Homo sapiens: one gene and its partner. The protein of the gene in region 1 interacts with the protein of each later gene in a pairwise test. Each region holds a gene or a part of one and is shown in the gene's direction. Other genes may lie near its edges.

Evidence for each region. The genes of interacting proteins can lie anywhere in the genome.
Region 2: the proteins of CEP152 (region 1) and EPB41L3 interact in a two-hybrid assay, tested with the Homo sapiens proteins (one study listed by BioGRID and IntAct).

Annotation. Positions count from the first base shown.
Region 1 is NC_000015.10:48,808,050-48,816,072, reverse strand, and holds the start of CEP152 (centrosomal protein of 152 kDa), read left to right. Parts: upstream 1-5,003; 5' UTR 5,004-5,112; exon of another isoform or gene 5,113-5,142; intron 5,143-5,265; exon of another isoform or gene 5,266-5,375; intron 5,376-5,478; exon of another isoform or gene 5,479-5,854; intron 5,855-8,023. UniProt on the Homo sapiens protein: Necessary for centrosome duplication; the function also seems to involve CEP63, CDK5RAP2 and WDR62 through a stepwise assembled complex at the centrosome that recruits CDK2 required for centriole duplication.
Region 2 is NC_000018.10:5,421,996-5,429,023, reverse strand, and holds part of EPB41L3 (band 4.1-like protein 3), read left to right. Parts: intron 1-558; coding exon 559-711; intron 712-4,664; coding exon 4,665-4,762; intron 4,763-5,470; coding exon 5,471-5,646; intron 5,647-7,028. UniProt on the Homo sapiens protein: Tumor suppressor that inhibits cell proliferation and promotes apoptosis. Modulates the activity of protein arginine N-methyltransferases, including PRMT3 and PRMT5.

The DNA of each region.
Region 1 (8,023 bases):
TAATTTTTATATTTTTGGTAGAGACGGGGTTTCGCCATGTTGCCTGGGTTGGTCTCAAACTCCTGACCTCAGGTGATCTGCCGGGCTTAGCCTCCCAAAGTGCTGGGATTACAGACATGAGCCATGGCGCCCCACCCAAATGTATATTATTTTAAAGTCGCTATAGAAAAAGTGAAAATATTTAAAGTAGTTAACACTACATAGAGTTGGTTTAATCAAACAACTCACAATAAGCTTACTTGATATTGATGAAGCCAAACATAGTTAATAAATAAACAGTAATAACAGCTCGTAAAGACCATGACTTCCTGGGGGAATGGTGCTATTAACATCCTCCTTCCAAAACTGGGAATTCCAATTACCTTCAACTGTGCATGAGCAAGAGCTTTGTAATATTGCACATCCAAATGATGATCATTCTTGATAAACCCGAAAAATGCACTCATTTTAATTTACAAATTCTTAACATTAGTAACTTCCTATATCTTACTTGGTGGATTTCTAATTGTATGTAAAAATAAAAATCTACAAATTATTTTCCTATGATAATTGAAGAAATGCCTTGGGCATTTGTATCATTTAATACAAATGAGGTATACCAGTGGACCATGGCCCTATTTGGAGTATCACTGGTCTAGACTTTTCAAATATAATCACTAAAAATGTATCTTAGTCATGAATGTTTGGTTGCCAAGAATGTAAACCTACCTTTATTAACTTCTTAGGGCTACTGTAACCAATACCGCAAACAACAGAAGTTTATTCTCTCACAGTTCTGGAAGATAGAAGTCTGAAATCAAGATGTGGTAGGGCCATGCTCCCTCCAAAGGCTCTAGGGAAAAATCCTTTCTTGTCTCTTCCAGCATCTGGTGGCCCCAGACGTTCCTTGGCCTATGGCAATCTAACCCCAATCACCACCTTTACCCTCACATGGCTGTCTTCTCCCTATGTGTCTCTTTGTGTCCTCTCTTCTTATGAAGACACCAGTCATTAGACTTAAGGCTGATAGCACTTTGCATAGCACTTCTGTGATGACATTGCTTTAACCTGATAGCTTTGACACCAAAAAAGAGGAAAAGGGAGAAATGATGGTTTAGCTTTACCTAAGTTTAATCCCGAATGAGCTCATATTAAACAATTGTATCAGCAAAAACCATATTTCCAAATAAAGTCACATTCTGAAGTTCTAGGTGGACATGAAATTTTAGGGAACATGATTCAACCTCTACAATGACCCAAGCCAGCTCAAGTCAAAAAGTTTTTAAGGTTTAGTTATCACAGAATGCAAGGAAAAGCTAAACTGTCTGGCTTTTCAAAGTACAGGAACCAGACAGATACATGGCTTTCAGTGGCAAAAGTTCATGATCTTCAGTCTAGGGTCTACCATGTATATGACACAGTTATGGAGGAAGCATATTTCCCATAAAATACAGGCAAGTGTAATAAAAGTCTGCTTCTCCTCTGTATGGCTACCACCTTGCTCAGTTTTGTGGAATCTTAGTTATCTGGGAAGGGAATACGATTGGCCCAGCTTGGGTCTAGTGTTCCCCTTTGATTCAGTCAAGTCTGGCCAGGACCGTGGGTGGTAGGATGGTGATGGTGGTGAGGTCATAATGACTGTGAGCAGGAGCAGATTCTGTGAGAAGGGACTTGAGCAGAGTGGGCATTTTGATCCACATGTCAATATTAAATGATCCCAGCACAGTGTTTGGCACAAAGTAGGTGTTCCCAAAATACTGTTGAATAAGATGTAAATAATGGTCTGATCTTCCTTGGTTCTTTCCAAGTACTCCTGTTCCATCTCTAGCACTTCCTATTTTTGTCCTGTTCTCATGAAGCCATATCCTTTGTGTAGACTCTTTGTTTGTCCCATCCCATAAGCTCCTGTTGCCCTCGGCACACATTCACCCTTGTCTTTCTCTGCCATCCACTCCCAGAACACCTTCCTGGTTTTTCCTTACTACCTCAGACCCCAGTGTGTACTCTAATCCAATAAGCCATAGTACATAGAAACACAATGGAAAATAATGTTTTTACATTTAAAAGCTGTTTCTCACAATCTCATCTCATTTTTTTTTGGCCACAATCCTGAGAAGTGGGTATTATCATCCCTATTTTCAGATAAGGACTTTGAGGCTTTTGAGTGTTAAATTGTTATGGACAATGCTAGTAGGTAGGAGAACTGGGACTTGAACTCAGATCTTCTTACTCTAAGTTCTGTGTTCCTTTGAAGATAGTACTCCTTGATGATAGCACTTTGGATAGCACTCCTGTGATGACATTGCTTTGACCTGATAGCTTTGACACCAAAAAGGAGGAAAAAGGAGAAATAATGGTTTAGCTTTACCTTTATAAATGCTTGTTAGTGGGAGGGACCCCATCTCATCAACAATGTGACATTTTCTCTTGAAATGTCTCACCCAGCTCATAGGTGTGCCCATTTAAAACATGCAAGGTAAACATCGAGCCAACGTTTCACAAATAATCTTTTGTCCAGCATTTGAGATCTTTGGCAGTTTTACTTTCTTCTCCCACACTTGCCTTTCTTATCCCAGAATGCCTCTGTCTGCTTGTGTTTCTTTGGATGTTAGATTCATTCCTTGTGCACACCATTACCTGACCTCTGTAGAATGCCCTTCCTATTCTCCCAGGCTTAAAGCTCTTCTATGGACCACCTCCTTCCTGCCTTCTTCTCCAGACTTACATCTAAATGTAAGATTCCTGCACTTTTGCTGGTCTGGCCTTTAAATTGCACTCATGCTAATCAACTGACCTGTTGAGCTCTCTCCTTCTCTTCTTCCTTGAACCTGCCTTGATAGATTCATCTTTAGGTGTTCACTTTCCCTAGAATTATTGCCTATTCTACTCTTATTACACTTAGTAAACAATTTTTATTATTATTTATCTTTCTACGTAAGCATCTTGTAACTCAGAGTGTTGGTACCTTGAGCATAGGGGTCCTACCCTGCACCTAGGCCAGGACTTAAACAGGATAGGTGGTCAAAGAAATTTAGTTGAATATATCCATAACTCCACCAAAAACCATTTTTAGAGGCATGGCAGGATGGGAGGTTGATTTATTCTTTATTTTCCCTCTTTGTCACGTATATGCTAGTCTCACTAAAATATTTTGTATGTAGTGATGAGCTCTGGGTTTGGAGATAAAGGACCTGGTTTCAGATTCTGTCTGCCTTGTATTAGCTGTGTAGCCTTGGACAAGTCATTTAATTTATTTTTATGTAAGTTTCTTCAACTGGAAAATGGGTAGGAATACCTGTCCTAACCCCCCACAGTGTTGTAGTGAGAACCAAATGAGATGATGCTTGTGAAAGAATTTACCAATCTGTAAAGCACTGTGTAATGGATTATAAACACTGCCTCCTCATGTGCTTACCCTGACACGTTTTATGCTTTCATCCTTCTAAGAAGCAGTTGTTTGTGCATGGGGATCACCTGGCATTCTTGCTGCAGCACTCCATCATAACCCTCAGCACAGAATGCAACATACAGTTTGCCAATCGACTTCAGTGGGATGTGAAAAGTGAAAAGTGCATTTAATTCTCACTAAGATGCCTTGGCTCAGATTCAACAAATGCCATTTACTTGAAGGCCTTTTATTTGCTTTTTCTGCCTGCCCCCCTGCCAAAATCTTCATCTATTTGTTCATTTATTCATTTACTCATTTAACATAATTGTTTTGAGTGCCTACCAGGGTCATGTTAGACACCCAAGAAGTAAAGTGAGTACTTCAAGATATTCACGTTGTACTGAGTGTAAGACACACAAAAACTTACAGTAGATAAAAGAACTATAATAGGATATATAGGATACACTGTGTACAGAGGTAGGAAAGATCATTTTTGCGAAGTGAGGGAGTGTGTGTCATGAAAGGCTTCAAAGGAGGTGCTAGTCTGTCTTCAAAACTAAGTAGCAGGAGAAGGTAGAGGCGATGCAGGTGAAAGAAACAGCTTTCACAGCAGGTGAAAGAAAAAAAGCGCTCTGGGAACCATTGTTAGCTCAGGCTGTGATTTCGTTCATTCTATTACAGTGGGTTAAATTACCTGTTGTTTGCCAAACCCTATACCAGTTTATGGGGTTACAGGGGTCAGTGTAGGCATCATGGGGGCGGACGGTGAAGTAGCAAAGGAAAACCAGCCACAGTATGAAGAGCCTCGAACAACCATTTTACTCCGTGCCAGTACACATGGGAAAGGGTTGAAAGGATATGTGAACCTGCCGCCACCAATTCCTTGATTATTCACTGGAACCCTTTCAGCCAGAGAAGATAGACACAGTACTGGGCTTTACTGAGGACTGGGTGGCGCTGTCTTTAGGGGCAGGTTAATAATATACACCTAAGTGACAAGAACACTCACACCCGAGGAAATTAGAGTAGTAAATAGACACGTGGAAAAATGTGCCATCTTATCAGTAATTAAAGAAGCAAAAATGTAAACAAAGCGGCACCTAGTAAGGTAGAAGACAAAGCAAAATATCTAAGGCTGTTAAATAATGGGGAAGCAGGCGCCTTAGAAAACAAGGGCAAATGTAAAAAACCTCTAAGGCAAGAGTTCGGTGGGGAATCTGCGGGATTCTGTGTGCTGAAGCGCAGGAGGCACGAGTCACCTTTGCAGTCTCCGGTACCAAACGGGCAAGGGGTCCCCGTAAGACTGCTGCACCCTGGCCGAAGGTAGCGGGTGAAGCGCCTCGGCGTCTCTAGGCAACCGATCAGCCCGCCCACTCCGGGGTGACTTCCTCGTAATTGGCTCTCGAATCCACCAATGGGCGCACAGGGGGAGCTTCCCGCCACCTCTGGCGCCCGCTTTCAAACAGCCGTACTTTGCAACTGCAGGTGGACTTCTCAACCAAGCTTGAGGAAGGCGGAGACTTCTGCCTCCTCGCTCTGCCCTGAGCTGGCACGGCTCCGCCCACCGGGCGAGCTTCTAGTCGGCGATTGAAGGATGCGAGTGCTCCTTAAGGGCCTCCGCCCCGTGAGTTCGGTTGTGACTAGGAAGGAGCTAGTGGACTAGAGCCAGGGTAAGGGGATCTGCTAGAAGTTGGTCTTCCGCCAGGACTAGAGTTTCCTCGCGGTAACAGCCTCCGTGGCCTCCGGTAAGTTCTGATTCACGGGTGAGCTTGGACCTGGGGTTAGAGGAGTTGCGGGGTCCTCGGGATGCTGGCTGAGGGTTCCTGGGGGGGCTGACCTGCCCCCTCCCCAAATCCCGCGGTGGTGGACTGCCCGCATGTTGCGGGCTCAGCTTTTACCTTAACGTGTCATTTAGACCTCTTCATTCCTCCAATATCCTACTTAGAAGTGACATATGGGAAGCCCGCCTCGTTTCCAGGCTGCTGGGGTCGCCCTGAGACCCTACTCTGCGGACCCCGCCTTGGTCACCCTGGCGTCACGCCTGGCTCACAGTAGGTGCTCTGTGCACGTGTGTTGACCGAGTACAAGTGACGCTGGCACCCGAAGCCAGTAGCCCCGGGCATCCTGGGCCCCGTGCGGCTTTGGTCATGTTTGTAGTGCCGTAGCTGACGCCAAACAGTTCCTCAAGGTCATTCGCTCAGCCTGTGGATGCTTATTGTGTATTAGCATTACTCGCTCCGCCCTCTGGGCAACTTGAATCAATTTGTCCAAAGTGCTGTTATTAGCACTGATCACAAGATGTTGTGATCATTTGTTTATATGTCTATTTTCTTTCCCTTCATCGTGTCCTGTTAAACTTTGTAATCTTGAACAGTGCTTGGTAAATTGTCGAATGAATGAATAAGGTGTCTCCACCAGGTGTTGCAAGTCTAAACCGGGCTATGTGCTCTGGCTATTTCCATTCTAGAAGGCGAGTTATGTCAGCAAGTAAGTAGAATTTCCCAACTCCAAGTGCAGTTCTTAGAAACCCCTTTTGTGGGGGTTTATAACCCTTCCTATATCGTAGTCATGAACTTGAGTCTGATTTAAGCCTATTATCACCTTATACCTTCATAGTGCGTGACAATGAACATGCACTCCCTAGACAGGTGAATGCACTCAACTAAAGAGAAGCTGAAGTTGAAGCCATAAGAAAAGCATAAGAAATACAGTCTGAAAGTGCAAAGGAGTGGCCAGCTCCATGGGGGAACAGGCTTGGGAGGGCATCTTGAAGGAGGGTGGCATTTTTGTTCCATAGGAGGTTGCATTATTAGAAGTGACATTTCTCATAGGCTGCACATTCACCTTTTCTCAGATATGCGGAATCCTCTTTATTCCCTAAACCTCTTCGGTAGCTGGCAGACTCCTATTCATCAGTAATAATGTCATAATAGTAATAAAACTACAATGTATTGATTGGTACATAGTGCTAATTACTTTACATGTAGTATCTTGTGAATCCTCAGAATCAATCTTTGAAGTAGGTATTATTTTTACCCCCATTTCTTTAACGTAGAAGCAGAAACAGTTTGCTCAAGATTGCACTGCTGATAAATAGAAGAGCCAGAATTGAGCCCAGGTTGTCTGAATGAGTGCCCTCATTCTTAGAACCACTTATAGCCATATTGTGTCCTTTAAGATTTATTTCTAATCTAAAAGCTCTTTTTTTTCTGTAAAACTTCTCTAAACTATCCTTTCTTCTTAGGAAAAGTAATTTGTGCTTTGTACTTTCATCTACTACGGAATTTATTACAATATGTTATTGTAACTGTTTATATCAGTGGCTCTATCTAAGAGAGGGTGAGCAGAGACAGTGAGCTCCTCATGGCTGGTACCATGTCTTAGGTGCATCTAGGATATGATCTGGAACACAGTGGGTATTCAATAAAATTTTATTGAAGTAATGAATTCGTATAAGGTAACATGCCTATATCATATTCAGTCAACAAATATTTGTTATGTACCCACCATGTGCAAGCAGGCAGATACATTTTAATTCTGCCTTCAGGGTGCTTATAGTTTATTAGATGAAGCAAAAACAATGCTACTTTTGCTTTGTAATCTTTTGTCCAAATACCCATTGCTTTTGTTGCAAGGAGGGCAGAGAAAACAACCGGGGACAACAAAAGGAATGCTGGGTCAGAGCATCCATCTGAGTGTAACAACAAGACATACTTTTTATAGTCTTGTTAAGGGTTCAGAAAAAGTTATCTAGGAAGAAAGTCTACCAGACTGCTATTGAAGAAGAAAACCAAAACATACTGTATACTTAATCTGCATCTTGATTTCTCAAGTGGTCAGCCTTGAGTCAATAGATATAGAAAATTTTCAGTATTTTTACTAGTGGCATAGTATTGACAAATTAATTCAAAATAATTTTACTAGTGTAAATGTTAATTTTCAATATATTAATATTGATAGTTTTCAAGATGGTTTAGCAGTTGATATTTTCACCAGCAACTCATGAGCCATACAAAATACAAAATAGTCACCACTGGGTGATAACAAGTTTTTTTTTTGTTTGTTTGTTTTTTCAATCTAGTGGTTGAAAATGGCATATTGTTTAAATGACACTTCTTTGAAACATCACGAGCTTAAGCATCTTTTCAAACTAATTGATTTACACTTTTTAAAATAAATTGTCATGTCAGTCGCCCAATTTTATATTGGATTGTCTTTTTCTCATTTCTTTGTAATAATTTTATATTGGGACTTTGTCAGGTGCTTTGCAAATTTTTTTTATTCTTATTTTTCTTGACTTTGTTATTGATGTATTTTTTCATATATAATATTTGACTCGTTAATGATGTCTTTTGCCTTAAACAAAATTTTATTTTTTGTGGTTAGGTTTCCATCACATTTTTCTTTATGGCTTTTGGATTTACTATCTTGCTATTTTTTTTTTTTAAAGAAGTCTCTTTTGTTGTTCTGAATATTATACTAAAGTCTCTGGTAGCAGTGATAATGAGTGGTGATTAATAAGTTAAGGTATTAGCTTTTATTTTAAGTCTCATTTAAAATATGTATTACCTTTTTACTATATATATTTTTAACCACATTAAGTTGATCAGGTTTCCCTTTATGTCTGAAATCATTTCTTAAAGTCTTTTATAGTTT
Region 2 (7,028 bases), on another chromosome or scaffold:
AAAAATATCGGGGCTCTTTTTAAAGGAACAACAACCAAAACCCTCATAGGAAAAGACAGGGTCCATCTTGTTAGCATACGTGTTGGTTAAGAGTGCTGCCTCTGGAACCAGGCTGTGTTCAGCTGGAACTCTGTACCTATTTTCTCATCTGTAAAATGGGAATAATAATAGTGACCATCTCAATTACAGTGAATATTAAAAGAGTTAATATATGTAAAGCAGAGCAGTGCCTGGCAATTGACAAGTGAGAACTGTGGCTACTATTATTACCGTTATTAACATACCTTCATGAGCTGGGCCCTCTTGGTGTGCAGTATTTACTTTGTAAGTCTGAGACACCTGGGAGAGCAGATTTTATTCTAACAAACCTCTCCATAGTGATAAACATCTTCACCAAAAGGCTAATGTTTAATGGTAATGTTTTAAAAATGGCTGCATCATTTTGCATAAGTAAACCAGCCATTTATAGTTTCTGTCGTGGATGCTTAAATACTTTACCCAGCAGAAAATGGAAATAAGTTAGATACTGATCTGTTGTTTCTTGCTTTTATTTTCCAGGACTCAGAAGGGGTAGAAATTATGTTAGGAGTTTGTGCAAGTGGTCTGTTGATATATCGCGACCGGCTGCGAATAAACAGATTTGCCTGGCCCAAGGTTCTAAAGATTTCATACAAACGGAACAACTTTTACATTAAGATCCGGCCGGGAGAGGTAAGTATACCCACATTTGCCTGTGCGTTGGGAGGAAAGATCCCTGATAGCAAGCAAGCATTTAAATTATCTGCTTATGAGTTCTGAGCATTGTGGGACACAGTGAATGACATCTAAGTGCCTGAGAGAGTTTATTGTAGGTTTGCCCAATAAACAGTAATAAATATTCTCTTCTTTATTATATTGTTCCAATATTTCCTACTGCATACGTTAATTGGAGGGTTTTTAAAAACATATTTTAATATAAAATCCAGTCTCGGCCGGGTGCGGTGGCTCACGCCTATAATCCCAGCACTTTGGGAGGCCGGGGGCGGGGTGGGGGCGTGGATCACAAGGTCAGGAGATCGAGACCATCCTGGCTAACACGGTGAAATGCCATCTCTACTAAATATACAAAAAATTAGCCGGGCGTAGTGGCAGGTGCCTATATTCCCAGCTACTCGGGAGGCTGAGGCAGGAGAATGGCGTGAACCCAGGGGGCGGAGCTTGCAGTGAGCCGAGATCGTGCCACTGCACTCCAGCCTGAGCAACAGAGCGAGACTCCGTCTCAAAAAAAAAAAAATTCCAGTATCATTAATAATTTTGTGTATATTTCAAGCAGTAATGGATAAATCTCTTCCTCCACATGCTGTTGTTATTTCTCCATGCTCTTTCTGTTTGTCCTGCAAATCTGGTTGTACTTTAAAGTGAACAGTTTAGAGGTCCTGTACTTCAAGGTACAAGGAATATTAGAACAAAGGACAATTAGTGTGAATTATATCAATGTTCTATAGCTCAATATATGTTTGTTTGTTTGTTTGTTTGTTTTAAGTCAGAGAAGCTAATGAGACAATCAGAATTGTTAACTAGTCCTTACTCCTTGGACAACAGCCTCCATGATCAACTTACGTTTATATCTTCCTTAGTGGTTTGTACATAATAGTAACACATATCTACTCTTATTTACTTAAGAGATAGTTAATAAATACCTCAAATTTCTAATTGGTATGGTTAGTATAACAGAGGCAGTCAAAGCTCAAAGATTCTAGCATACTTATATCTCTGAACATTTTCTGATATGATATAGAATTATCTCTTATCTTCAAAATCTACTTCTCTACTGGAGTTTCTTGGTGGAAAATGCAATTTAAAAAATCAGAATATCGGCTGGGCATGGTGTCTCATGCCTGTAATCCCAGAACTTTGGGAGGCCAAGGGTGGGAGAATCACCTGGGCCCAAGGATTTAAGGCTGCAGTGAGTTTGATCACACCACTGTACCCCAGCCTGGGTGACAGAGCAAAGACCCTGTCTCAAAAATAACAAAAAAATTGAAACATAAAGCATGTAATGATGTTTAGTATGAACATAACATCATACCTATCTATGATAACTGAAATAATCTGTAAGCTTTTCATGTAAATAACTAAAATTATAGTGTTTTAAAAATATTTCCTAAAGATTGTATATTAAACTTATAGCCAATAGATAGTCATTTGACTTCATTGAACATTTGTTAAGTGAGCACCTATTTATTGTCAGACATTAGAAATCTAAAGACAAATATGACCTTGTTCCTTGTTAAGGGATTTTCTATTTAGCAGAAAAACGGACTCATATACTTTGATTGTAACAGCATGATGCAAATGAGATGATATTCTGTAGACATGGAGTGAGCATAGTATTGTGAGATGCCAGAGGGGAGAGCTAGAGAAATGAATCAGTGGACAACTAGTAAGTCATGGGAGGTTTTAAATCAGGATGTGACACAACTAGGTGAATATTTTGGAATGATACATTTCTTAATGAAATTCAACGACTTAGAAACATGATGTGATAAGACCTAAACTAGGGCAGAGGCTGTGGGAATAGACGGGAGGGAACAAATGCAAGAGAGAGGTTTCAGAGGCAGAAGCAGCAGGTCGTAGAGACAGGATAGAGGAAGTAATTAAAAGAGGGAAAAGTCCAGGATAATCAAAGGTTTTCAGTTTGCATGATTGAAGCCAATGGAGATGACATTCGGCAGGAGGGAAAAGGGGGAAAATTTCAGAAAAACAACTGAAATCCCTTTGAAACAGATTTTCAGGGAGTAACTCTTGCATAGGAAGGAGTTGAACAGAGTTATCAACTGTATATATTTTATTCAAGGCCTTAGACATGGAATAAATTACTCAAAGAGCAAGGCAAGTTAGAGAAAGAAAAGGCCCAAAACTAGAACTCTGGATAATACCACTATTTGAGAAAGGGCCAAGGAGCTGAAGAAATGACAGCCAGAGAAATAAAAGAAGAAACAGGCTGATGGATGACCAGGAGATGAGTTTCAGAGGAAAGTGGTTAGCTAGCAGTATCATATGTTACAGAAAGGGCACGCAGGATGTGGACTAACAAAAGTGTGTTGAACTTAACAGTCAGGCCCCATGATGACATTTCAGAGTTCAGAAGGGCAACAGGAGCACCTGCCAGGTGTGTTGAGGTCAGGAGTAGGTAGCAGAGGCAGCAGGTCGTGGCTTCTGCTTCCTAAAGTTTAGCAGTGAGGAGTGAGATGGGGTTGTGGTGCTGGCATAAGCAGGCTCAGAGAGAGCTGGTTTTTCACTCCTCTTCTCTCTGCTTTTACAATCCTATTTACAGCCTGAGAAAAGTGAGTGAGAAGAAATTGGAGACACACAGACTCTGAAGAAGTTGAAAGAAATTGATATAAAACACAGAGAAATAGATATTAATAAACTATTAATACCTATTCAGGTAGTCTAGGAGCCTGCATCATCCTTGCCTACAGAGGTTGGCAGAGACTCTTCCCAGCTTCTTGCAGCAGAGTGCAAGCTGACTCTTCCATATAACCCCTGGCATTGGCGTAATATGTGCATATTAGTTGCAGGATGAATAAATGGATGATGATTTAGTCACAAGCCACACTATGTCTGTCTTGGCTGAGTCCCTTAGACAGTAGTGATTTTTACAAACACCACTGCACATGAACATCCAGAGTGAATAAGAAGTTGGGAAAGGCAATTGCGGTTGAAGCATTTGTGATGTGTTTCCCACTTCCCCTAATCATCCTCAACAAACAAGAAATAGAGGTCAAACATGATTGTATCTCACATGCCATGCATATGACCCCTCACCTCGGTTCTTTGCCATATAAATGATTTTTGCTATTGATTATAGCAGTAGTACCCATTGTGTGCTCTTTGGGGAAGCCTTTACTGTTTAAGATGATTGCCCTCTGGTGGTCTGATGTGTACCTTCTTCAGAATGTGAAAACCTGTGCATCTGCAGTAATAAAGTATATTATGCAGGAAATGAGATGAGTATTTCACCTCGAAAAATCAAATGGCTGATAAGGCATCATCTGAAGTGTACATGCTGAAAAATATGAAAATATGTTCCCCCAATCTCTGATCTTACGTATGATATAGAGAGACGTTAGCATTTAACACGATAATCCATAGCGGAACACACAAATAAAATCAGCAATCTCTGACACCAAGTTATCAACTACCTAAGAAATACACATATTTCCTGCCCAGGTATTAGGAGAAAAGTCTCATTTCTAAGAATGCTGTAGACTATATTTGTAAACATTTTGTTCATTTCTGTACCTTGCAGTTGAAGTCATTGTGTCATTGAGAAACCATGAAAATAAAAGTTTAAAAGTGATATCAGGGCAAATTGATTTCTGGAAGAAATCAAAAAAACCCCTTTTCGTGTTTGGTTTTCAGTTGTATCATAAGATACACACTTATTCAGAAGACATTTTACTGTATGCATAAAGTGGCTATTTATACCTGCAGCATTTTAAAGACACATTTTTGAAATTAACAAATGAATCTGTATAGCATGAATTATGCATATAGCAATTGATCTAGTAAGTAAATTTTTAAAATTCTGGTGGCATCATGATTCTGTAATTTATTTACAGGGCTTCTGTTATTTATAATTTTAAACTTTACTCTTCAATGTATTTTTTTTTATTTAGTTTGAACAATTTGAAAGCACCATTGGGTTTAAGCTGCCAAACCATCGAGCTGCCAAGCGTTTATGGAAAGTATGTGTTGAGCATCATACATTTTTCAGGTAGGAAGAGATTATTTTGTTTTTTCCCTAAGGAATAATTATAATCACTTATACTGAAAAAGATTGTCAATAAAAAATATGGAATTTTATTCTTTCTATCCCTTCAAGTTCATTGTCACCATATTTCTTGATAAGAAATCCTAAGAGAACTAGAAAAAGACTAAATTTGAAGGATTTTCCCTAATTTGTCATGTACTTACATGTCCCAAACCCCCCTTCTTTAGTATCTTTAGTGTGTTTACATTATTTTTAGGGTGTCCACTTCAAATATCCAATCCATTCCTTACTATTTCAATTCCTTACTATTTCAGTGATTTCTCAATACCCTGAATCCCTTTACCTACCTATGCATGGTACGAGACCCATCAAATTAGGCACCCAACACCAAATTGTCACTCTTCTTCTTCACTAATATCAAACTATTTAGTAGCTGTTTGGGCTTATAGAACCATAGACTGTCCACTTTGCGTGGAATGTTAAAAATTCATCTAGTTCAGTACAACCCTCATTTGCATATATCCTCTCTACAATATCCCTAGTTGATATATACTATATGCATTCTTTTATGAAATCAGATTTATTTAACTGCAAGTTGTGCGTTAAATGTTTAGCATGCAAAACACATGACCTCTCAGAGTAAAAAGTTTAAAAAGCACTCTCAATATTGGACTTAATAGTCTTTCTGCTGTTTTTCTTTATTCTCTTTAGACTACTGTTACCAGAAGCACCTCCCAAGAAATTCCTAACCTTGGGTTCCAAGTTTCGTTATAGTGGCAGGACACAAGCGCAAACGAGAAGAGCCAGTGCGTTGATAGATCGCCCAGCACCTTACTTTGAACGCTCATCCAGCAAACGTTATACCATGTCTCGCAGCTTGGATGGAGGTAGGCATCGCTTACTGGCCCTTAATAACCTAGTACCTACCCCAAAAAGAATGTGAAACTGTCATGAGCTTTCAGTAAGTATAGATATTCCTGGATATTGTATGTTGAAAAGCAGTTGTTGCTTATTGACTGAATGGCACATTTTTAAGTCTCCCCCAGCGAAATGAAAGTCCCTTTGTCAGTCTAACATCTGCAGGTTTATGTAAAATTACATAAAAGAATGGCACTTCGGGAATGAAGAAAATAGCTTTCATAAGCTGACACCCTGAATTTGGAGAAAGATGCTCTCATTCTAAATATAGTAGTCACATACTCTGTGATTTGATTCTCTTGCCAACAGGTCTTAAAGGATTGGTAGGTTTAAGACCATTTGTTTTATAAATCTATAAGTTAAATTTATTTCTGTTTCTAAAAAATCTTTATGAATAAAGTGTGACCTTTATCAGTCAGTTGATAATAGCTGGTAGAAAGGATGACATTCAAATAACAGAGCACAGGGTTGTAAGTTAAATTCTCCTAGTTGTGCTAATTACTACCCCAGATGGACTGGGAGAACAGTGCTAGGTAGGGGTTCTGTACTGCCAAGTTAAATTAGTCAAATGGAGAGATGATCATTCAAACTACCTTTTTAGGGGATAACACAACAGTGAATTTTTAGTAGGGTTTTGTTTTATCGAACAGTTTCTTGATTGCTCTCTGAAGTAATATGGAGGTACACTTTCTGCTGCAAGGCGTGCCCGCTGTAACAATACTCTGGAACTGAATCATGTCTAGGTCTCTGTCTTCTCATTTGGAGCACCTGGAGATTTGTTGTTTTTAATAGAAGATCTTATCCTGTGCAAATAAAAAGAATTAGGAGTTTCTGGTATGCAAGTATGGTTTAAATAATAAGGAAAAACATAAATAAAAATAAACAAAAGTTACAAGTGCATGGTACCATCTCCTTTCCTACCTTTTTTGCCACTGTTCCCCTGAGAGTCTCAGCTCTGCCTTCCCCATTTCACTAGCCGGGTGATTGATGGGGAGAGGTGCTCCTTGAATCTCCCAACTAAAAACAACTGTCTTTTTCTAATGGAATACTTTATGAACAGTTTATAGAAGAAATCAAAATGGCATTATTAGTGCTATATTATGTATGTTACTAGCGAGGTGGAAACTGTACTCTTGTGGCATGGGTAAATCCAGATTGAAGTCCAGGCTCTGCTGCCCTCTGTCTCTGCGGTGGTTGACAAATGATTTCAGCTCTCCAGGTCTGTTTTAGTCATCTGTATAATAGGAATAAGGCCGCCTTTGACGGGGCTGTTGTGAAAAGCAAGATATATGTGAAAGCACTCTTGTTACATAGGTAATTATCTCAATAATCATATTGATAATTACTCTTT